Homo sapiens: one gene and its partners. The protein of the gene in region 1 interacts with the protein of each later gene in a biochemical or structural test. Each region holds a gene or a part of one and is shown in the gene's direction. Other genes may lie near its edges.

Region 1 (7,872 bases):
TTTTTAGTAGAGACAGGGTTTCACCATGTTGGCCAGGCTTGTCTTGAACTCCTGACCTCAGGTGATCCACCCGCCTCAGCCTTCCAAAGTGCTGGGATTACAGGCATGCGCCACCGTGCCTGGCCTCCTGGATGTTTCAATAGAGCTATGCCGGGCACTGCTGGCCCACAGCTTAGGGACATGGTTGTCGGGATGTGTGTGGGTAGCAAAGTCTCCCTCCTCAACTCTGCATTCTGGAGCCAGGCCCAGGGGCTGGGGTCTGGTGTCTGCAGTGGCGTGGGGTCAGCCTCTGAGCTGAGGGGCATCCATTGGCATTTGCTTTCCAGCATCCTCTGGCTGGTGTATAGACACAGTGCTGCCTGGCCCTGCCTTTGCCACTTTTTTTCTTCCTTTTTTTTTTTTTTTTTTTTTTTCTGAGACAGGGTCTCTGTCACCCAGGCTTTAGTGCAGTGGTACAGTCTCCCTCAACCTCCTGGGCATTGATCCTGCTGTCTCCGCCTCCCAAAGTGCTGGGATTACAGGCACACACCAGTGCGCCTGGCCGATTTTTGTTATCTTTAGTAGAGATGGGATTTCACCACCTCGCCCGGGCTAGTCTCAAACAAACAATCCACCGGCCTCAGCATCCCAAAGTGCTGGGATGACAGGCGTGAGCCACCACACCCAGCCTTTTTTTTGTTTGTTTTTTTAACTTTTTAATTTGAAAAATCTTTGAATAGGTTAAGGACAAATTGCAAACCTTAAGCTTTTTTTTTTTTTTTTTTTGAGACAGAGTCTCGCTCTCTTGCCCAGGCTGGAGTGCAGTGACGCGATCCTGGCTCACTGCAAGCTCTGCCTCCCGGGTTCAAGTGATTCTCCTGCCTCAGCCTCCCGAGTAGCTGGGACCACAGGCGACCACCACCACGCCCGGCTAATTTTTTGTATTTTTGGTAGAGACAGGGTTTCACTTTGTTAGCCAGGCTGGTCTCAGTCTCCTGACCTGGTGATCCATCCGCCTCGGCCTGCCAAAGTGCTGGGATGACAGGCTGAGCCGCCGCGCCCGGCCTGCCAAAGTGCTGGGATGACAGGCTGAGCCGCCGCGCTCGGCCATCCTTAAGCTTTTTGTAAGAAACCCAGCATGTGATGGGCACCCGCTGCCAGTCCTGAATTCAGCCTAGGCCACCCCTCCTGAGGACTGTGCCGCTGAAGGGAGGGGCAACAGGCGTCGCATTAATGCCAGGGCGGCCTCCTTCCAGGGACCTGTCCATGATCCTGTGTGACCCCTTCGCCATCAACACGCTGGCACTGAGCACAGTCAGGCACCTGCAGGAGCTGGTCGGCCAGGAGACACTGCCCAGGGTGAGTGTGGGCTTGGCCAGCAGCTGTCGGGGCCATGCGGCCACTCCGCTGGCTGCTCTGGGTGGTCAGGGTGTGGACAGCAGCGGCCAGGTGGAGGCAGCTGTTGGGGCCCTGTGGCCGCCCTGCTGGCTGCTCTGGTGGTCGGGGATGTGGACTGCAGTGGCCCAGGTAGAGGCGTGTGCTTCCCCGCTGTGAGACTGCGTTTCACCCCGTGTGTGGGGCTGGTGATCGCAGTCGTGTGGTCCTGGCCATGGGCACCAGAGATCCTGCTGAGTAACGAGTAGGGTCAGAGGAGCTCCATGGCCAGGACACAGCTGCCTGGGAGAGGCGCTGAGCCCGTCCTCCCTACAGGACAGCCCCGACCTCCTGCTGCTGCTCCGGCTGCTGGCGCTGGGCCAGGGAGCCTGGGACATGATCGACAGCCAGGTCTTCAAGGAGCCCAAGATGGTAACGAGCCTCCTGTGGGGGCTGCCAGTTTCCTACGAGGGGTTGTGGGCTGGAAGTGGGGTGGAGGGGGAGGCGCTAGCAAGGTGATTGTGGAGGCCCCTTTGGTCCCAAAGCTTCCTTCCTGGAGCTGCCCACCTTCCTTTTGGGAAAATGCCCACCAGGGAGGTTCTGGGGTGTCTCCGTGGACCCTGGCTGGTTCTGGGGTATCTCCATGGCCCGTGGCTGGTTCTGGGGTGTCTCCGTGGACCGTGGCTTGTTCTGGGGGTGTCTCCATGGACCATGGCTGGCCACAGGTGGTGACTACTCCATGTGGGTCCAGACCTAGAAGGGGGTTTGAGGAGATGGCCTGGGTGGGGGACTCGGGAGGTGGGAAGAGGGACCTGGGGACCTGGAGAGGAGGGAGGGTCGGTGAGGTATCTGGGGGAGTGGGAGGGCCAGGGGCAGGGTGTGTGTCACGTCAGGGTGGGGTGGGGCAGGGCCCGGGCCCGCGCCCGCTCATGGCCTCCCCTCCTCGTAGGAGGTAGAGCTCATCACCAGGTTCCTCCCGATGCTCATGTCCTTCCTGGTGGATGACTACACTTTCAATGTGGATCAGAAACTTCCGGCTGAGGAGAAAGCCCCAGTCTCATATCCAAACACACTTCCCGAAAGCTTCACTAAGTACGGGCTGTAGGGCCATGGTGCAGGGGTGGCCGTGGCGCAGGGATGGCACTGTTGCCCAGGGGGCTGCCTCAGGGCTGGGCAGGGGTCGGTGTGGGGCTGAGGTGGGGCTGAGGTGGGGCTGAGGTGGGGCTGATGGCGCCCCGGGCGCAGGTTTCTGCAGGAGCAGCGCATGGCCTGCGAGGTGGGGCTGTACTACGTCCTGCACATCACCAAGCAGAGGAACAAGAACGCGCTCCTCCGCCTGCTGCCCGGGCTGGGTAAGTCCTGACGGGCGGTGCCTGGCTGTGTCTTCCCTGCGGCAGCTGCCGTATGCAGTCCTGCCCAGGGTGCGGGCCCCAGGGCCCCCAGGAGCTGCCTTGTCTCCCCAGCCCACCTCCAACTTTGCTAGCTTTGTTTTCACCTTTTTTTTTTTTTTTTTTTTGAGATGGAGTCTTGCTCTGTCGCCCAGGCTGGAGTGCAGTGGTGCAACCTCAGCTCACTGCAGCCTCTGCCTCCTAGGTTCAAGTGATTTCTCGTGCCTCACCCTCCTGAGTAGCTGGGATTACAGGCGCGTGCCACCGTGCCAGGCTAATTTTTGTATTTTTAGTAGAGACGGGGTTTCTCCATGTTGGTTGGGCTGGTCTCGAACTCCTGACTTCATGATCCGCCCGCCTCGGCCTCCCAAAGTGTTGGGATGACAGGTGTGAGCCACCACTCCCAGCCTCGTTTTCACTTTTACTTTTGTTTGTAGTTTATTTTACTAGGAAAGGGAGAGGGAGTTCAACTTTGTGCTTTCCCACAAAAAGGTGATGTAAGAGCTGTCTTTATTTCATCCTAACTGGCGAGGGGCTTGGGACCCCTCAGGTGCTCAGAGAATGGAGCAAAGGGGAGGGAGAGAGATCCCCTGCCCCAGTGCCCCACCCCAGGTGGTGACAGGCCCACTTCCTCCTGGGGGCCTTGACGGGGGAGGGGTTGTTGCAAGCCAGGAAGAAGAGGAAGGGTCCAAATGGGCACCTTCAAGAGTAGAGCTGCAGGTCCCCTGGGAGATGGGGCCTCTTTAGCCTGCTGTGGGTCCCATGGGAGATGGGGCCTCTTTAGCCTTGCGGTACCCACTGTGACACAGACCCTGGGCTCTTCCTTGCTGACTCAGGCCTTGTCTGGGGTTTGCTGTCTTAGTCCACGTTATGCTGCTCTAACAGAGACTTGAGACTGAGTAGTGTAGAAAGGGCAGGGACGGCCGGGCACGGTGGCTCAGGCCTGTAATCCCAGTGCTTTGGGAGGCTGAGGCGGGCGGATCACGAGGTCAGGAGTTCGAGACCAGTCTGGCCAACATGGTGAAACCCTGTCTCTACTAAAAAAATACAAAAATTGGTTGGGCATGGTGGTGGGTGCCTGTAATCTCAGCTACTTGGGAGGCTGAAGCAGGAGAATCCCTTGAACCTGGGAGGTGGAGGTTGCAGTGAGTGGAGATTGCACTATTGCACTCCAGCCCAGGCGACAGAGCGAGACTCCGTCTCAAAAAAACAAAGAGCAGGGACTTCTCCCAGTTCTGCGGGCTGGGATGGGAAGTCCGAGGTCAAGGGGCCTGCATCTGGCTGGGGCTTTTTGCTGTGTCATCCCATGGTGGAAGGCAGAGGGCAAGAGAGCACGGGCAGGGGAGACAGACAGACACAGACAGAGATGAGAGACAGAGACACACAGACCAAGATGAGAGACAAAGATGAGAGACACAGAGACAGAGATGAGACACAGAGAGATGAGAGACAGGTAAGAGAGACAGAGACAGGAGAGACATGGAGACAGACAGATGAGAGACACAGGACAGAGACAGATGAGAGACAGAGCTAGAGATGAGACACAGACAGACGGAGACAGAGAAGGGGCCACACTTACCCTTTTATCAGGAGCCACTCCTGTGCTAACAGCGAGAACGCTTTGGTGAGGACGGAGCCCTCACGACCTCAGCAGTGTTGCGTTGGGGATCAGGTTTCCGATGGTGAACTTGGGGACACGTCCACACCACAGCACGTGCCTATTGTGTTTCTCGGTGGCTGGTGTGTTTGAGGATGGCGCGTGCATGCGTTTTCCAGCTTTCTTTGTGGAGGAAGTTACCTGTGGGTATTAACCTGTCCCCAGCCATCCTCTCACTGAGCTTGGGTTGCCTGGGCCTGGGTTTCCTGTTGTTGCTGGAACGAATGACCACAGACAGTGGCATTAGACAGCGCAGGCAGACATGACCTCCTGGGCTTCTGCGGGTGCCAACACTGCCGCTCCTTCTGGAGGCTCAGGGAGGCTCTTGAGGGCATTGGGACATCGTGCTGCCGGCCGCCGGGCAGAGCCGGTTTGTTTATTTTTTGAGACTTCCGGGAACATAGTTATAAATAACTTTAATTTGCCTTGGCCTGCCCACTGCAGTACAGTCACGTGTCACATAACATTCTGTCTACCGTGGACCACATATACGACCACGCGGTCACATAAGCTGACAATACTGTATTTTTACTCCACTTTCTCTATTTAGATACACAGTTGCCATTGTGTCCCAGCAGCCTTCAGTACTCAGTACAGCCATGTGCTGTGCAGGTGTCTAGCTCAGGGGCATGAGGCCATGGCCCAGCCCAGTGTGCAGTGGGTGGCACCTTCTGGATTTGTGTCAGTCACTGTGGAGTTCGCACAATGACAGACTCACCTGGGAGGCCTTCCGTGCGCTTCTGTTTCTTTCTCTCATTTGATTGTGGCTAGAAACAGGCTGGGAACCAGGAGTGCAGCTTCTCGGAGTACGTGGCTGCCCCACGGGGTGGGATGTGCATTTTCAGTCACATTTGGGGAGAGCACGCGTGTTCTTAAGTTTTTAGCGGGTTCTAGTAAGAATGGATGTTGATTTTTAGAATTCTCTCCTGTTTATTTTTTAACATTTTGTGGTGGGAATTTGTGAAAGAATACGAAGTCAAGAGCATGGTACGGTGAGGACCCAGCACCATCTCCAACCTCCCCGGGGTCCACGTGGGGTCTGCGTGTGGCCGCCTGTCCCTCAGCACGATGTCTGGGTGTAAATCTGAGACATCACAGCATGCAGGCTGCAGACGTAGGCATCTCTACAAAAGAAGGATGCGTTTACAGGAGAATCGCTTGAACCTGGGAGGCAGAGGTTGCAGTGAATCGAGATCACGGCACTGCCCTCCAGCCTGGGCGACAAAGCCAGACTCCGTCTCAAAAAAAAAAAAAAAAAAAAGGGCGGGGAGCCGGGCTTGGTGGCTCATGCCTGTAATCCTAGCACTTTGGGAGGCCAAGGCGGGTGGATCACCTGAGGTCAGGAGTTCCAGACCAGCCTGGCCAACATGGTGGAATCCCATCTCTATTAAAAATACAGAAATTAGCCGCGTGTGTGACGCATGCCTGTAGTCCCAGCTACTCGGGAGGGTGAGGCAGGAGAATCGCTTGAACCCAGGAGGCAGAGGTTGCAGTGAGCCGAGATTGCACCACTGCACTCCAGCCTGGGTGACAGAGCGAGACTCCGTCTCAAAAAAAACAAATAAAAAATAAGACTGTCTTTAAATGCCTTTAAAAAACTGGCCAGGCATGGTGGCTCACCTTGTAATCCCAGCGCTTTGGGAGGCCGAGGCGGGCGGATCACCTGAGGTCAGGAGTTCCAGACCAGCCTGGCCAATGTGGCGAAACCCCATCTCTACTAAAAATAGAAAAATTAGCCCGGCGCGGTGGCGCACGCGTGTAATCCCAGCTGAGGGAGGCTGAGGCAGAAGGATCGCTTGAACCCGGGAGGTGGAGGTTGCAGTGAGCTGAGATTGCACCGCTGCACTCCAGCCTGGCTAACAGAGTGAGACTCTTCTCAAAAAAAATAAAAACCAGTGACCACGGACCACGGGCCACTGTCACATCTGAGCCAGGTTCACTGCCGCTCCTCTGCCGACTGACTGCCTGACAGTGGCTGCGCTTCTCCAGGTGTCTCCTGCCTGCTGTGTGGACGGTCCCGTCAGGGTTGGGATGCGCCTGCTGTCCCCTCTCCTGTCTCGCAGTCTTGGGTTCCCCGGAGTTGCAGGAATCAGGGCATTTGCCCAGTGGGGCCTTGCTGCTGGATCCCCTGGTCGGGACTGTGTGCCTGCCACGTGTCCCGTGGCCACCTGGCCATGTGGCCGGCCAAGGCCCTGTGAGATGTGGCAGGCAGGCACCTCGGGGGCCTGGGTCTCCTGGAAATGTTTCTGTCACTCTGGGCGCAGGTGGCGCCAGCTGGGTTGTCCTCATAAAGGCCCCATCCGGGATACTAGGAAGGCCATCCTCAACCTGTCCGCACACGTCACCTCCATGTGGCCTGGCCACAGCTCCTTCAGGCATCAGTCTGCAGGCGGCCGCCCTCCCTCCCTGCAGGGGCCCCGTTTGGGGCGTTGTGCTGGCTCTTGGCAAATGTCTGCCAACACCGTGGCTTCTGTGCTGTGGTCGCACGTGAGGCGTCTGTGGGCACGAATGCTGTCTTTGTTGTGTTTTGGTGTCTGGCTTCAGAAAAGAATGTGGAAGAGTTTCGTTCTCTTTCCTGTGGTTCAGTGTAGCTGGCAGTCAGGGAGAACTCTCTGCAGCTGGCGCCGGCCCTGTATTTGTTAGGCTTGTTTCTCCTGGGCTCGGCTGCTGGGCAAGGCCTTTTGGGACTGGAGGAGCACCTCGTTTTTCTGTCTCCTTCTTCCTCCACCCTCCTCCTGTCCCCGGGCTGTCTCCCCCTCCCTCCACCCTCCTCCTGTCCCTGGGCTGTCTCCCCCTCCCTCCACCCTCCTGTCCCTGGGCTGCAGCTCTGCTTCCCTGCCACAGGTCCCACCCCCTGCCTGCCTCTGTCCACTTCCCACCCCCCTCTTCACCTGCTGAGACCCTGTGCTTCTCATCTCAGAACAACTGAGAACTCTCATGTGAGCACCCCCAGAAGTAGGTTCTGAGGTCTTTGAGGACAAGGGTGCCCTCTGGGGTGGGCAGGGTGAGTGGCACTGGGCTGATGCCTGCTGTGTCTGCAGTGGAGACCTTTGGCGACTTGGCCTTTGGCGACATCTTCCTCCACCTGCTCACGGGCAACCTTGCGCTGCTGGCCGACGAATTTGCCCTTGAGGACTTCTGCAGCAGCCTCTTCGATGGCTTCTTCCTCACCGCCTCTCCAAGGTAGGCCTGCTGGGTACCATCCGGCCCGCTCTGTCCTCTCAGCTCTTGTCCGTAGCAGCCTGAGAGGTGGCTGCTGTCCCCAGCCTGGGGCGGAGGGTCCGCAGGTGGGTCTGTTGGGCACCAGGGCTCGCATGTGGCCCTGCAGGGTGCCTGGGCACAGCTGGGGAGGGTCCCAAAGGCTGGCCATGTCCTGTCTCCAGGGGCCTTGGCCACCTGCATCTGGGCTGGGCCTGGGCAGACAGCAGGGCCTGCCTCCTGCCCCAGCCCTGCACGGCCTTTTCCAGGAAGGAG
Region 2 (7,872 bases), on another chromosome or scaffold:
GTCTCTAGAAATCTTGTTTTATTTTTCTGTAATTATGAATTAAAACTAAGGGGCCGGGCGCAGTGGCTCACACTTGTAATCCCAGCACTTTGGGAGGCTGAGGCAGGCAGATCATGAGGTCAGGAGTTCAAGACCAGCCTGGCCAACATAGTGAAACCCCGTCTCTACTAAAAATACAAAAACTTAGCCAGGCCTGGTGGCAGGCACCTGTAATCCCAGCTACTTGGGAGGCTGAGGCAGGAGAATCACTTGAACCCGGGAGGCAGAGGTTGCAGTGAGCCGAGATCACGCCATTGCACTCCCACCCGGGCAACAGTGCGAGACCCCATCTCAAAAATAAAAAACAAAACTAAGGATGTGAGAAAAACTGATACATTTATTTTAACAAGATGCTCAGAATATAGATTCCTATTATATTTTTATATAATGATTACCTGTGAAACAACTCTTTAAATTTGGAAACCTATGTGAGTAAAGGATAAGATCTATTCCCTGTGACCTCAGAGGGTCAGTGAACTAGGACTAAAGTGGAAACTACTGAAAGGTGCCTTTCTACCTTGTCAACACTCTCCAGAACAGTACAGGCTTCCACTTAATGTAAAAACATTCTTATGCTTAATTGAAGAAACTAGTAGTGGAGATGGGATTAGACTGTACCTTTTAATTTCTAACATTACCATTTTGTAAAAGTAGTGGATTTTGTTAGCCAGCTTGGTAAGAAGGTATGATGACATTGTTAATAGAGTCCACATCATAATCAACAATTTACAAAGACTATAAACAATTTTTACCTAGTATCTCTGATGTATAAGGTCCTCGGCTAAGTTCTGTGGAGGCATATAAATTGGCAGAGGCCCTGTCTGTCTACATATAACTTAACAGGGAAGATGATGAATGCTGAAAGAAAGAGACAAGAAATAGGCCAGGCGCGGTGGCTCACACCTGTAATCCAAGCACTTTGGGAGGCCAAGGTGGGTGGATCAGCTGAGGTCAGGAGTTCAAGACCAGCCTGGCCAACATGGTGAAACCCTGTCTCTACTAAAAATACAAAAATTAGCTGGGCATAGTGGCAGGCGCCTGTAATCCCAGCTACTCGGGAGGCTGAGGCAGGAGAATCGCTTAAACCTGGGAGGCGGAGATTGCAGTGAGCCAAGATCGTGCCACTGCACTCAGCCTTTGAGAGCAAAACTCCATCCCAGAAAAAAAAGAAGAAAGAGACAAGAAATAAAGATTAAGGACTAATAGCTGCAGTGTCAGTACAGGAGGGGAGAGATTTGTAGGAAATTAGGGGAAGACTTCATAGAGGCAACCACAGCCAAATGGGGATTTGAAGGAAAGGTTGCATTCAGGCAGGCACAGAAGGGCTGAAGGTTGGACTTGCCAGGCAAAGGAGTGGAGGTAGGAAAGTATTTAATAGTGGGTAGTGTGGAGGGAGTTTCGAGTGTTACAGTTTGGTTGTATTGTGGAATTCATGAAGAGGGGCAGCCGGAAATTATGGCAACGTGGTTTGGGGCCAAGTTCTGGGGCACCTGATTTGTAGATAATTGTAAGTCATTGAAAGTTTTGGAGCAGTGAAGTTACATGAAGATGAATCTGGCAGCAAGATAACAATTGAGGGAGGCAGGCTTATTGGCCAGGCTATAATAAGACTTTAGACAAAATTAATGAGCATTTAAATGAGTGGCATAAGTGAGGAAGAGAGGTTGAAAAATAAATTATGGTAGGATGAACAGTATAAAGCAGTTAATCAGATTTGAGGACAAGGGAGATGGGAGAAATAAACTGGATGTAGTTTTGACAGACATTTAGTATTGCTGGAGTGCTTAGAGAAGAGGGAAAACCCTCCAATAGAATACCCAACTGATTAAAGAGAAAAATAGAAGCGATAGTGACATAGGCATTTTTCTTATCATTCCTTCCCCCTCCCTCCCTTTCCCCTTTTGCAAAAAGAAGGATGCAAATTAGAGAATTTGCTCTCAGCTAAAGTCTGGGGTTTCAGAGAGCAGCTCAAATTCATTTAGGAAACACGTTTTAAGCATCTGCTCTGTGGCAAGCATTGTGCTCCATATACAGAAATAAGACATAATTATCTCCTGGAAACTGAGCTTAACTGGGAAGACAAACATTTTAACAGGTGAGTTATAATGTACTAATTGTATACTAGAGGGGTGAGCAGACTGCAGTGAGAATAAAGAACCAACCAGTTCTACTTGGGAGAACTGAAAAAAGGGAAAGTTAAAGTATTGAGTGGATTTTATGTTTGTATATTTAATCTTCAAAATTGAAATATTACAGTTTTATTGATGATAAGCTTCTCAATTGTATAAGTGGTGGGGCCAGGATTAAAATCCAAGACAAGCCATTATAACATCAGCTTCAAGGAAACTTAGCAGAGTCTTGAAGGATGAATAGGTGTTTGCTGAAAAGAATGGCATGGATAGAAGTTCATTGTGGTTGGACCATGGGCTGGTAGGAGTTGAGTCTGGAGAAGTACGATAAGATGTTTGAAAAGTTCTTAATCTGGGAAGTGATGTGATTGGTTATATCTTTTTGGATAATAACTGTTTGGAAGGAAGGAGGAAGTGCCTGAAATGGGTTGAAACTGGCCACAGAAATCAAGTTTAGGAGACTTTATTTTTATTTTAATCTTTTCCACCCTCCTCCCCAAATTTAGAAGACTTTAAAGTATGAGATGATTGAGGCTTAGTGACACTGTGTGCAAAGTTAGTGATTTTGGTGACTGTTGACAGCGAAATTTGTAATTGAAAATATTGACTTTCAGGAAGCTGATTGTGGCTGTTCATTCTCTGTTATAGAAAGGCAGTTTTTGTTTGTTTGTTTTTCAGAAGGAGTCTCACTCTGTTGCCCAGACTGGAGTGTAATGGCGTGATCTCGGCTCACTGCAACCTCCGCCTCCAGGGTTCAAGTGATTCTCCTGGTTCAGCCTCCCGAGTAGCGGAGATTACAGGCGCCTGCCACCGTGCCTGGCTGATTTTTGTATTTTTAGTAGAGATGAGGTTTCACCATCTTGGCCAGGCTGGTCTTGAACTCCTGACCTTGTGATCCACCCGCCTCGGCCTCCCAAAGTGTTGGGATTACAGGCGTGAGCCACCAGACCCGGCCATTCTGATGTGTTCTTAAGACTAGATTTAGTTTATGATCTTGTGCCAAGACCACCACAGAAGTGCTGTTAATTTCAGTGCATTTTATCAAGAGGTACCTGGCTGTGGATTAGTCCCATTCCATGTTTCCATGTGGTGGTAACTTTGCTCATTTGGCCAGGCACAGTGGCTCACACCTTTAATTCCAACACTTTGGGAGGCCGAGGCAGGCAGATCATCTGAGCTCAGGAGTTTGAGACCAGCCTGGGCAACATAGTGAGACCCTGCCTCTACAAAAAATTAAATAAATTAGCCAGGTGTGGTGGCAAGTGCCTGTAGTTCCAGCTACTCGGAGGCTGTAGTGGAAGGAACACTTAAGCCCAGGAGTTCAAGGCTGCATGAGTTAAGATCACATCACTGCACTATAGCCTGGGTGACAAAGTGAGACTGTCTCTTTAACAAAAAAAAAGAAGCTGGAGTCTAGAGGCTTAATTTTTTATTTATTTATTTTTTTTTTGAGTTGGAGTCTTGCCCTGTTGCCCAGGCTGGAGTGCAGTGGCAGTCTCAGCTCACTGCAGCCTCTGCGTCCCAGGATCAAGCGATTCTCCTGCCTCAGCCTTCTGAGTAGCTGGGACTACAGGTGTGCGCCACCACACCCGGCTAATTTTTGTATTTTTAGTAGAGATGGGGTTTCACCATGTTGGCCAGGCTGGTCTTGAACTCCTGACCTCAGGTGATCCACCACCTCGGCCTCCCAAAGTGCTGGGATTGTAGACGTGAGCCACCACACCCGGCCTAGAGGCTTAATTAGATTCAAGTTAAACAGATTTTGGCAAGAAAGTTTCGTGGATGATGTTTCATTCATCATGTTGCATTGCATCAAGAGCTCATAATGTCAGATGTTTCACTATTAGTGATGCTAAGTTTGAAGGTGACGGCTAAATGTTTGCATTGAAAAGGTACAGTTTTCCCTTTCCAAATAAGTAAGTGATCTGTAAAGAGAAATTGACTTTTTTAAAGCAAATAATGGTGAACTTAAAGGAGCTCCCCCAATTTTTTTATTGCATTAGAATTTTGCTGAACCGGGCCAGGCACAGTGGCTCACACCTGTAATCACAGCACTTTGGGAGGCTGAGGCCAAGGCAGGCAGATCACTTGAGGCCAGGAGTTCAAGACCAGCCTGGCCAACATGGCAAAACCCTGTCTCTACTAAAAATACAAAAATTAGCTGGGTGTGGTGGTGCACACCTGTAATCCCAGCTACTCGGGAGGCTGAGCTACGAGAATCACTTGGACCCAGGAGGTAGAGGTTGCAGCCAGCTGAGATGGTGCCATTGCACTCCAGCCTGGGCAACAGAGCAAAACCCCAATTTTTTTTTTTTTCTGAACTAAATATTATTTGAAATAGTATACAAAATTTGTAGCTTTAGTATTTGCTGTGATGGTGTTTAACCAATAATTGTATAGTTATATCCTGAAAGTGTGGCTGAACAACTATGCCTAGTATTTGAACTTGAATTGTGAGGAATATAGGGCTGTAGCTAACCAGAGAGATCTTTGGTGGAAATAACCCTAAACTATAATAGACTAGACTGGACAAAACCAATGGATTCCAGTTTTCTTCTGCCACATACCACCTTTGTCATTGTATGAGCTGTTTAACTCTTTTAGTGCCCCATCTGTAAAATAGTGATTGTGTGGTAGCATGTTAGAATGTTAGTAGGGTGAGGTGAAGGCAGATCATTTTCAGCTGTCAGGTGCCACTAAGTTGCTTGTTTACTTTGTGTAACCTAAGTTAGTGGTTAATAGCATGAGCGTCAGAAACAGGCAGATTCAAATCCTGTTATCCAGATGCAAGTGGTTATGTACTCTAAGCCTCAGTTTCATCATCTGAATATAGATATGGTACTTATCTTACAAGGTTGTGATAACTAAACATAATAATGTATATAAGGCATAGCAAAACATTTGGCACATACTAGGTGCCCAGTGTGTAGTAATTGCTGTGACTACATGGTATACCACCTTCCTCTCCCTGAGAAATCTCAGGATATTGGACACACTGAACTACTCCATTCTAAACCTTAAACATAAAAACAAAAGGCCGGGCGCGGTGGCTCACTCCTGTAATCCCAGCACTTTGGGAGGCTGAGGCGGGCGGATCACAAGGTCAGGAGATCGAGACCATCCTAGCTAATACTGTGAAACCCCGTCTTTACTAAAAATACAAAAAATTAGCCGGGCGCGGTGGCGGGCACCTGTAGTCCCAGCTACTCTGGAGACTGAGGCAGGAGAATGGCGTGAACCCGGGAGGCGGAGCTTGCAGTGAGCCGAGATAGTGCTACTGCAGTCCGGCCTGGGTGAAAGAGCAAGACTCCGTCTCAAAAATAAATAAATAAAAACAAAATAAGCAGTTGACCCAGTATTAGAATTACGGTTAAAATTGGAAGCTTTTCCAGTTCTTCTAGTCCATTATTAGCCTGTACAGGCTCTAACACCAAATGACAGGATTGAACCAAGATTCCTTCTAGCTTTACACTTTCATGATCTTATGTAGCATAACATGAAAAAGCCTTGGCAACATAGCGAGATCCCGTCTCTACAAAAATAAAAAACTTACCTGTACATAGTGGCTCACGCTTATAGTCCCAGCTACTTGGGAGGCTGAAGCGGGAGGATTACTTGAGCTGAGGAGTTCGAGGCTGCAGTGAGCCATGGACACACCACTACACTCCAGCCTGAGTGACAGAGTGAGAGTGAGACCCTTACTCTAAAAAAAATAGGCCAGGTGCGGTGGCTCATGCCTGTAATCCCAGCACTTTGGGAGGCTGAGGCGGACGGATTACCTGAGGTCAGGAGTTTGAGACCAGTCTGGCCAACATGGTGAAACCCCGTCTCTACTAAAAATACAAAAATTAGCCGGGCGTGGTGGCACACGCCTGTAATCCCAGCTACTTGGGAGGCTGAGGCAGGAGAATTTCTTGAGCCCAGGAGACAGAAGTTGCAGTGAGCCGAGATCGTGCCTCTGCACTCCAGCCTGGCAGAAAGAGCAAGACTCTGTCTCAGAAAAAAAAAAAGGAAAAATATATTGCAAAAAGATGGTAGTAAAAATGCTGCTAAAGTTTATAAATGTGTCAGTATGAATAAAAAGTGGTGGCTGTTTTGGTAGAACCATCAAAAGAAATAACCAGGCTGGGAACAGTGCTTCACGCCTGTGATCCCAGCACTTTGGGAAGCTAAGATAGGTAGATCGCTTAAGCCCAGAAGTTTGAGACTAGCCTGGGCAACATGGTGAAACCTTGTCTCTACAAAAAATTAGCTGGGCATGGTGGTGTGCATCTGTAGTCCCATTTAGTTGGGAGACTGAGGTGGGAGGATCATTTGAGCCCCTGGAGGGGTGGAGGCTGCATTGAGCCATGATTGCACCACTGCACCCCAGCCTGGGCAACAGAGTGAGACCGTGTCTCAAAAGAAAAGAAATAACCAGTTTCCTTCAAACTCTGATGTATGGGAAATTGTTCGTGTCTTAGCTTAATTTTTTGACCCACTGAAATGGTTATGGTAAGACCTCATTATATACAAAATAGCATATTTTGATGTTCCATCAGCTGATGGAGACACTCTTTAGATGAAAAAGTCAAGATAGTATCATCTCAAATAACCATGTGCCTTTTACCCCAAAAACACTGAAGAGTAGCATTTGAAAAGTGGTATAGAAAACTTATAGGGAAAATGTAAAAATGAAGCATTTTCTCAAATATAAAAGTAAGGATAAGCCCTGTGTATGTGTGTACATATAGGTTTAACATTTCAAATCTTTTTTCTTTTTACTTCCTCAGTCTGTTCATTACCAACAGAGGTAAGTTCTTTAATTTTTTTTTTTACCTTATGTATTTGAAGTTATTCTTGGTTTTAAAGCTACCTTGAGAATTTTTTTTTATTTTTCATTTTTGATTATTTGATAGTAAAGCTTTAACCTTTTATAGAGAACTTTGATTTAGAGTAATTTTTTGGTCTTATATATTCTTTCCTAAATTTAGACCTTAAATCATACATGTGCATCTTTTGCACATGGCTGTGCAGTTTGGATTTTTGCATGGGACTTATGAATAGTCAGCTAATAAAATAAGAGTAACCTTAATGCCAAAATCTATACAAATGAGCAGAGGAAAGAAAGGGCAGTATAAATTATGTGTAAGACTTTCTAAGTCCAGCTCTATGAGCAAGTCATGAAAATGAGGCACTTATGTGCTCAAAGCAAGAAATAGAGGGAGAAGAAATAAATTGGTACTGTGAAGAGGTACCTAATCCTTCTTAATATCTAATTTTTTATGGGACATATCGTGGTTGAATACAGATTTCCTGTGGATAAGAAGTCAGATGGGAGTGGTTTGTTTTATTCTTTGTATTAACAAGTATAGGGGGTGATTTTTAATTACGACATATTGTTTGACTGAAAATGTTTTGTTGTGACTCAGTTCTTTTTTTTTCTCCTAGTACTGTGAATATATGCCTGATGTTGCTAAATGTAGACAATGGTTAGAGAAGAATTTTCCAAATGAATTTGCAAAACTTACTGTAGGTATGAACATTTTTTTTCTTGCATTAAACTTCTGTACCTGAGACAAATGCATGTATGGCATTATTCTAAAGATAGGAAAGTCCTCCTTTAGTAGGATATTACAGAATTAACATTTATCTGTTAGCTGTTTAAGTTCTCTCTGAGATAGGATAGGTCTGAATATCAACTTTCTTACATAAAAAAGTAAAT
Region 3 (7,872 bases), on another chromosome or scaffold:
AAGTAGATTCCCATACCTCTACTTGTTTAGGGTAGAAACTCAAAATGAATTTCAGTAGGTGTTTGAAATGATTCCAGTGCATGGCCTGGTTTTTTTAATTACTCACTAAACATTGCTCTCTTAAATTATGACTTCAATTCTCTGACTCATCTATTCTGGCAGTAGGAGAAAATGAAAACATATATTTGGCCAGTTGGTCAGAAATTATGTGTATTTTGCAGGAAAGTACTCTACCCTTGCTGATATCTTAGTTCACGCTCTAATAAGGCCATCTGGTAATGGGCTGCACGATATGAGCAGTGAAACCCACAAGCAGGATTCCACTGTCCCACTTATTTAGTTTGTTGTTAAGGGGGTTGGTCAGAACCACTGCTTGGTCAGAAGCAGTGTTTTGTAGCATACAGTGGTAGTTATCAGGGCATCCACAAGAATTTTACAGGTAGAAGGGAAACAAGGAAGGCAAAGCTTTATCTGGATTGTATGCCCGAGTTAACAGCAAGTGCCTGACTACCCATATAATGAAAGGGATCCTAAATATTATCAGCTTGGTGTCAGGGCTTGGTGGGCCTTCCAGATGATATTGTCATATCAAGGCTGTCTGCTGTTGGCATATTGGACACACAGCATGTCAATAGCCAGTGATCCTTTTTGAGGGGAGTCGGTGTTATGAAGTAATGCATGACTTCCCTCCTGGCCACCGTGGCCATTTTGCTGATGAGCACCTTGAGTTGCATGGAGACTGCTGGGGATTAAGGTGCTCTAGCATCTGCTGCAATGAGTCCTCTTGACTACCTGGCTGAATGCCAGCTCTGCATTTGCATGGGACACCCTGATTTTACATGATTGACCCTCTTTTCCAGATCACCCATTCACTGGTTCTTTCATTTCTATGTCTTTGGAAATCAGTATGGTGATTCTGCAAGTGGCTGATTGTGTATATTTCATCAAGGCACTCAGGAACCAGGGAGGGGAGTAGCATACATTGTGGATTTACAATCCACTGAACCCACTGTCAGTGGACTGAGACCAGAAGTCTCCTTACCTTCTAATCCCATAAGCCCCACTCTGCTTGGTGGCCCTCAGTGGAGTGGCATTAGGTCAGAATCAGTTCTGTTAATTCTCAAACTGTCTAAGTGTTTCCTCTGCTCGGTGTAAAGTCACTCTAGTAAAATGTCCGAGATCCTTGCTGGGATCTGAGATTCAGAGAATTTGAATATATTATCTGGGTTTATTAGAGAGATTCATTGTTTTGGGAGGACTAGGAGGAAGCTCACACACTAGGAAATATCATAGTTACTGTACGCAAGCAGCCTTTCCCCTGGGTTTAACATAGCTCTCTTATTCTCTGCATGTTTGGTTAAGCAGAGATTGATCGTAGGCCAGGAGATGATAAGGAGGAGGAGTAGTGAAGCATGAGAATTGTCATCTCCCTTCAAGGAACTACCTCGGCTGTGTAAGCAACATGGGAAAAACATCACCAGGCAGGCTTTTGCCGTGTGGAAGGCTCTGTGGCATTTCAGTATTTGAGTACTCAAAGTTATTTGAATCCTCCCAGACGTCAATGTGTTCTCAGGTTTAATTTATTCTTAGGTTTTCACTGTTATCCAGACACTGTCCTGAGTCTCACATAAGAGACGGCTGAGCATCTGTATTGTTATTCAGCCGCACACAGACTTGAACTCTGCACCTGTTTGTTGGCCCTGTCAACCTGTGGCTGCAAGCGGTGCACCCTAGCTTACTTCTGGCTCTTTGGGCTTGAACTGATAATGTAAAGCCCCAGTCTGTCATTTTCTCTCTAAACTCTTTTCCACCAGTTTTGTCTATCTCTTGTCCACCTGTACTCCTCTCCCCATTTTTGTCCCATACTGCGCTGTAGCCTCTGTCACATGATCCATCAGTCATTCTTTCAAAAGCATTTTACTGAGGGTGACCACAGATGATCATTTAAGTAACAGGTTTGCAACTTAAATGGATACTGGCCAGTCATGGTGGCTCATGCCTGTAATCCCAGCACTTTGGGAGGCCAAGGCGGGGTGATCACCTGAGGTCAGGAGTTCGAGACCAGCCTGGCCAACATGGTGAAACCCCATCTATACTAAAAATATAAAAATTAGCCGGGCATGGTGGTGCACGTCTGTAATCCTGGCTACTCAGATGCTGAGACACGAGAATTGCTTGAACCCGGGAGGCAGAGGTTGCAGTGAGCTGAGATTGAGCCACTGCACTCTAACCTGGGTGAAAGAGCAAGACTCTGTCTCCCAAAAAAATAAATAAATTAAAAAAAAAAAAGATACTACTAGTATCCCATCTGCTGTATTATAATCAGATAGTCACTGCCTGAATTCTTGAATATTGATTTCAGTTGATCCTTTTTACTAGTTTTAGTTTTCAGAAGTTATCAGTTAATATGTTTATTTCTAAAGAGATTCCCATTACTTATTATTTTAATCTCATCCATTTAGATTTTCAAAGTGTTCACTATTAAAATCTAATGTGAATATAATTTTTCTGCATTTATTTGCTACATTTATGAAATTATGGGAGTCATTATTGATGTATATTAGTTGGTTACATAGCATAATAATCATGACAGTGCTCCGGTCTGTTGAGCTTTCAGCTTGTGCCAAACTTCATGCTGGATGTTTTGCCTGCATCATTTATACTATACAATAATAGAATAAATGATAGTGATATAATAATTATCATTACTATATTTATCATTTACTGAGCGCTTATTATGTGCAAGGCTTCATCCTAAAGACGTTTTGTTTGTTAACTCCTTTATTACTATAACAGCCTTATGAGATAAGTACTGTACTATTATTTTCCCCACTTAAAAATCACCCCTTTAAGATGAGGGTAATGTAATCTGCCCAAGTCATACAGTTAATGTTGAATTAGGGGTTTAATGCAGAATTTCAACATCTGTGTTTTTCTCCAAATAACACATTGCCTGTCATCATTAATCTGTAGAGTAGTTTGGTAATAACTCCCCTCTCTGTGGGATTGTACCCTGGCTACAGCTATGATAAGAAATCCTCTCTGTCCAGCTTAAGTTTGTGATAGAAATAATAATGCTTGAATAATAATGAACAATTATAATCTTTCATTAACATCATTATTTTGATACTCTATTAGAAAAGGATAAGTGTTTGTTTCAATAATTTGTGCTTTCAGGGATGAATTGCTGTACATAGAATGCAATTTTTAAAACTTGAGCAATGAGAGAGATTCAGATCAGATGGTTGAAATGTTCTGATTAGAACAATGAAGAGTTGGCGTAAGATAATGTTTTGTATAGTCAAAACAAATTTCAAAGGAAATTTATAGAATATTATGGCAGCTTATATTTACATATATTCCCTTATATTTTTTCCTTTCATTCAGTTTCTGGCCTACTTCTATTAATGTGATGGAAGCTAGCATGTATTGGTGCCTATTATATGTTAGGCAGTGTACTAGGTAGTATATACACTGTCTCCTTTCGCCAGCATTTATATAAAGCTGTGCCTTGTATTCTCAGTAGTTCTGCATTAATATACATGTGCTACCAATAAACAGATTTTGCAAATTAAGTATTGGATTACATACAGTCTGTCTAAACTCACATGGCTAGTGACTGGCATAGCTGAGATGAAATTATAGGTGACTAAATCCCATGCCCATTTCCCGCTCTGTGTATTAGTCTTTCTTTTCTTTGTAAGAGTTCAAATTAGTCAAGTAACAGAAGTTGAATCCTTCAAGGGTGAAGTCAAGGGCTATGTGCCTCTAGCATTTATTTTATTATTGGCCTCTTGCTTAATTGTGAAATTAAAAGGTGGTATTGCCAGGAATTCCTGGGGTTCTCTTGGTTATGGGATAGCCTTTTTGAGAGACTAGAAAGATTTCTTATCTTTTGGAAATTAGCCTCAGATTCCTGTTAATCTTAATCTGTCTGATACTAACATTGGAAACAGAGACTAATGGAAGACCCAGATTCTGAAATCAGGACCTAAAATTGAAGGTTAGTTAGGAAAAGGCAGTGGAGCAAAATCAGTAGTTCCTTAACGATCTGTTTTTTTCTCCTCCTAATTTTCGTCCTGCATTTCCTTATGGAAACAAACAAAGATTAAAAACTTTGTCATAATTATGTAAAATAACGTAATAAAGTCTTTCATTTTGTTTTATTCACTGTTTTATTCTCAGATAGAATATAGTGCTTGGTATGTAGAAATGTTTTTTGAATGAATATGCGAACGAGCAAATTGACATAGCAATGAATGAATGTTTAATCATTCATTCAACGAATCTTTGTTGAACATCTGTATACCAAGCACTTCTCTAGACATGGAAAATGCATCACTAAGCAAAGCAGTCACAGTGTCTGCTCCATGGTAATCACTTTTTACTAAGAGAAGATAGAAAATAGACATGTTTTTAAAAATAAGTTATTTCAGATAGTGATAAGTGCCTTGTACCAGCATCACAGAGACGCACACAGCCAGTGTAGAAGTGAGCACGTGAGCTCAGCCAGGTTGAGAAGCACAAAAGAAGTGTGGGCAGTGGCTGCGGAGGGTTGAGCAAAGGAGACTGGAGAAGGTGAAGACACCCTAGCAGCGGAAGTGAGCAGATGATGGGGCTCCTACAAGTCAGCGTCTGGAGTGGGACATTATTCCAGCAGCAGTAGGAAGCCTTTGAGTGTGTGTAAAAGCCTGGGAATATCAGGATCACATTTATAGCTTAAACCTTCTTTTTTAGAGTAGTGTCTACTGTGACAACCGCTTGCCAGATGGATTGTTTTTATTTTGGGGGTTAGTTTTTATTTATTTATTTATTTATCTTTCATTTCTTATAATGACACGTTTTTAAATGTGATTTCTTTTTTCCTTTTTCCAGGAAGAAGAGTTGAGGAAAAGTGGAGAAGCGAAGTACTTCCATCTCAATGATGATCTCCATGTTCTCATTGAAGTGTTTGCCCCACCTGCAGAAGCTTATGCCAGGATGGGACATGCTTTGGAAGAAATCAAAAAGTTCCTCATCCCTGTTAGTACCATTTTTCTTGATAGTTAACTTGTACTTTAAAGTCTTTGCTTTAATCCTTGATACTTCTTGTCTGTAACTGTTATTTGCATAGCTCCTTTTCTGCTGTAAAGCTGTATGGACATCACCTCAAGTAGACCTTACATTGTCCTTGTAAATTACTGGGCATTATTCCTTATGTATATATGAGGTGTTAGAATTTCAGGAAGATTTAATAATATGGCCAAGGTTACATGGCTAAAAAACTTGCATAGCACAATCACTAGTTCAGGTTTTGAAACGCTTTTCCTACGATTTTATGTGACACTGTACAACTTTTTTGTTCTCCAACACAAAACCATTAGTGCCTCTGTGTGCCATGCACAGTGCTTGGTGTTGGCATGCAGACTTGAATAAAAGCAGTCCCTGCCCTCATTTAGTATAATATAATACGTAATTTAGAGGAAAAGAGAAACATCAACAGATGATTTCAGTACAACATGATAAATATAACAGACATAACCATAATGAGCCCAGAGGGGATGGGCTATTTAGCTAGCTTCTGCCAAGTATTTTGGATGTTTTGTTAAAAATTGACTGTCTGTTTTAACCCTTTCAGACACCTTCACATTGCTAAGGATGTGACAATTTAAAGGGAATACATCTCTACCTCTGTTACGAAAGTTGATTTAAGTCTTTTGTGTGATTTGTATGCTCTTGATAAAAGGACTTATTATGTCATTTGCATGCTCTTGATAAAAAGAATCGTAAAGCATCAACACTTTGGCTCTGCAGACAATTTATTTTAGAGAAGCTGACACATCTGCCAAGTAGTTCTCTGGATAAGACTGTCTTTGGTTATCCCAGGTTAGTTTGGTGGATTGACTTACATACTACAGCACATGTACTGTGATTATATTATCTGTGAGGAAAACAATTATTATATTTATAGGGAAAGGATATTTAAATCACTTTTGCCTTTAAAAAGCCAGGACATAGAATTGCATTAAGTATGTAATAACCTGGGAACTGAAATGGCTAGTATTTTCTTTAGTTCCCATGAGCAAATATGACAATCTATTTCTTCTTTTAGTTTAAAAACAAAATTTCTAAGGGCTTACTATGTGGTAGGCAGATGTGAACTAATAAAATACATGATCCCTCATGGAGTTTAATGGCAAAGAGTCAGATATGAGTCAGTTTTTCATATAAATGACTACAAAATTGAAACTATGGCGAGACCACAGCTAAGGAGAGGAGTAAGTTTTGGTGATCATGCAGTGTGGACCAGGCAGTGCAGATCTAGCCAGGTGAAACAGATTCTCTTTTCCAAAGATGGCTGCAGTAGCACCATTTATCCCATGACCCTTACGATCCTTCCCCAGAGGTAGACTCTAATTTACCTCACACAGAATCTGGACTGGCCAAAAAAGTCTTTGCCTAATGAAGGTCACCAGGATTTTCTACTGTTTTATTTTAAAAATTTTTCAGTATTCTTTCACTTAAAATACATTTTGAGTTAATTTGTATATTTGAGGTTAGTCTCTAAATTTATTTTTTTCTAGATGGATATCAGTTGTCCTAGCACCATATGTTGAAAAGACAATCATTTCCTCATTCAGTACCTTAGTACCATTGTTGAAAATTGACTAAACATAAATGTAAAGGTTTATTTCTGCATTCTCAAATTCTTTTTCATTGATTTGTATGCCTACTCTTAATGCCAGTAGCATGCTCTTAATTACTTTAGCCTTAAGTAAATCTGGAAATCTAGGTTGTGTAAATTGTCCACCTTTGTTCTTTTTCAAACATTTTTTGGCTTTTCTGGCTTCTTAGCATTTTCATATGTGTTTTAGGATCAGCTTCTTAATTTCTATTAAAAAAAAGCTGGCTAGGATTTGATAGATATTATATTGAATCTATAGATCAGTTTGGGGATAATTTTCATCTTAACAATTTTGAGTTTTCCAATCCAGGAACATGAAATGTTTCTTCACTTTTAAAAAAGATATTTTAAAATTTTTCTCAACAGTGTTTTATAGTGTTCAGGGTGTCAGCCTTTTCCTTTCCTTTTGCAAAATTGATTTGTAAATATTGTATACTTTTTGATACTACTGTGAGTGCAATTTTTAAAATTTCATTTTCAGATGATTACTAGTGTATAGAAATGCAATTGAGTTTTGTATATTGATTTTGTATCTTGTGATCTTGCCAAACGTGTTTATTAGTTCCAGTGTGGTGTTTTTTTAATAGAATCACTACAATGATTAAGTGGAATCCTAATTAGTGGAATACAGGAGCATGTCATCTGTGAATAAAGACAACTTAACTAGTTCTTTTCCAATATGGATGCCTTTAATTTTTTTAATGTAATGTTGTTATTCTATTCTATTCCATTCCACTCCATTCCGTTCCTTATGACACTGACTAGAACCGTGAATGCAGTGTTGTTTCTAAAATTGGAGGGGAAAGCATTCAGTCTTTCACCATTGGCTATAGGTTTTTTTTATTGCTACCCTTTGTCATGTTGAAGAAGTTCTCTTATATTTCTAAAGGATGAGAGTTTTTATCATGAATAAATGTATAAACATGGGTATTGAATTTTGCAAATCTTTTTCCTCCTGAGATGATTGTGTGGTTTTATTCTCCTTTATTTTGTGAATAATAGTGTATTACATTAGTTGATTTCAGATGTGAAGCCACATTTGCATTCCGAGGATAATTCCCACTTGGTCATGGCATGTAGTCTTCTTTATGTGTTGCTAGATATGGTTTACTAATAGTTTGTTAAGGATTTTTACATCTGTAATTATGAAGGATATTGGTTTGTCGCACAGTATTTTTCTGGAGTCTTTTATATTAACTTATACTATT

The links.
Region 2: the proteins of NELFB (region 1) and DENR form a complex in vitro, tested with the Homo sapiens proteins (one study listed by BioGRID).
Region 3: the proteins of NELFB (region 1) and KHDRBS3 form a complex in vitro, tested with the Homo sapiens proteins (one study listed by BioGRID).

The regions. Positions count from the first base shown.
Region 1 is NC_000009.12:137,264,642-137,272,513, forward strand, and holds part of NELFB (negative elongation factor B), read left to right. Parts: intron 1-1,235; coding exon 1,236-1,338; intron 1,339-1,689; coding exon 1,690-1,785; intron 1,786-2,302; coding exon 2,303-2,445; intron 2,446-2,598; coding exon 2,599-2,705; intron 2,706-7,439; coding exon 7,440-7,581; intron 7,582-7,865; coding exon 7,866-7,872. UniProt on the Homo sapiens protein: Essential component of the NELF complex, a complex that negatively regulates the elongation of transcription by RNA polymerase II.
Region 2 is NC_000012.12:122,755,247-122,763,118, forward strand, and holds part of DENR (density-regulated protein), read left to right. Parts: intron 1-6,940; coding exon 6,941-6,960; intron 6,961-7,598; coding exon 7,599-7,683; intron 7,684-7,872. UniProt on the Homo sapiens protein: Translation regulator forming a complex with MCTS1 to promote translation reinitiation.
Region 3 is NC_000008.11:135,543,879-135,551,750, forward strand, and holds part of KHDRBS3 (KH domain-containing, RNA-binding, signal transduction-associated protein 3), read left to right. Parts: intron 1-4,875; coding exon 4,876-5,022; intron 5,023-7,872. UniProt on the Homo sapiens protein: RNA-binding protein that plays a role in the regulation of alternative splicing and influences mRNA splice site selection and exon inclusion. Binds preferentially to the 5'-[AU]UAAA-3' motif in vitro.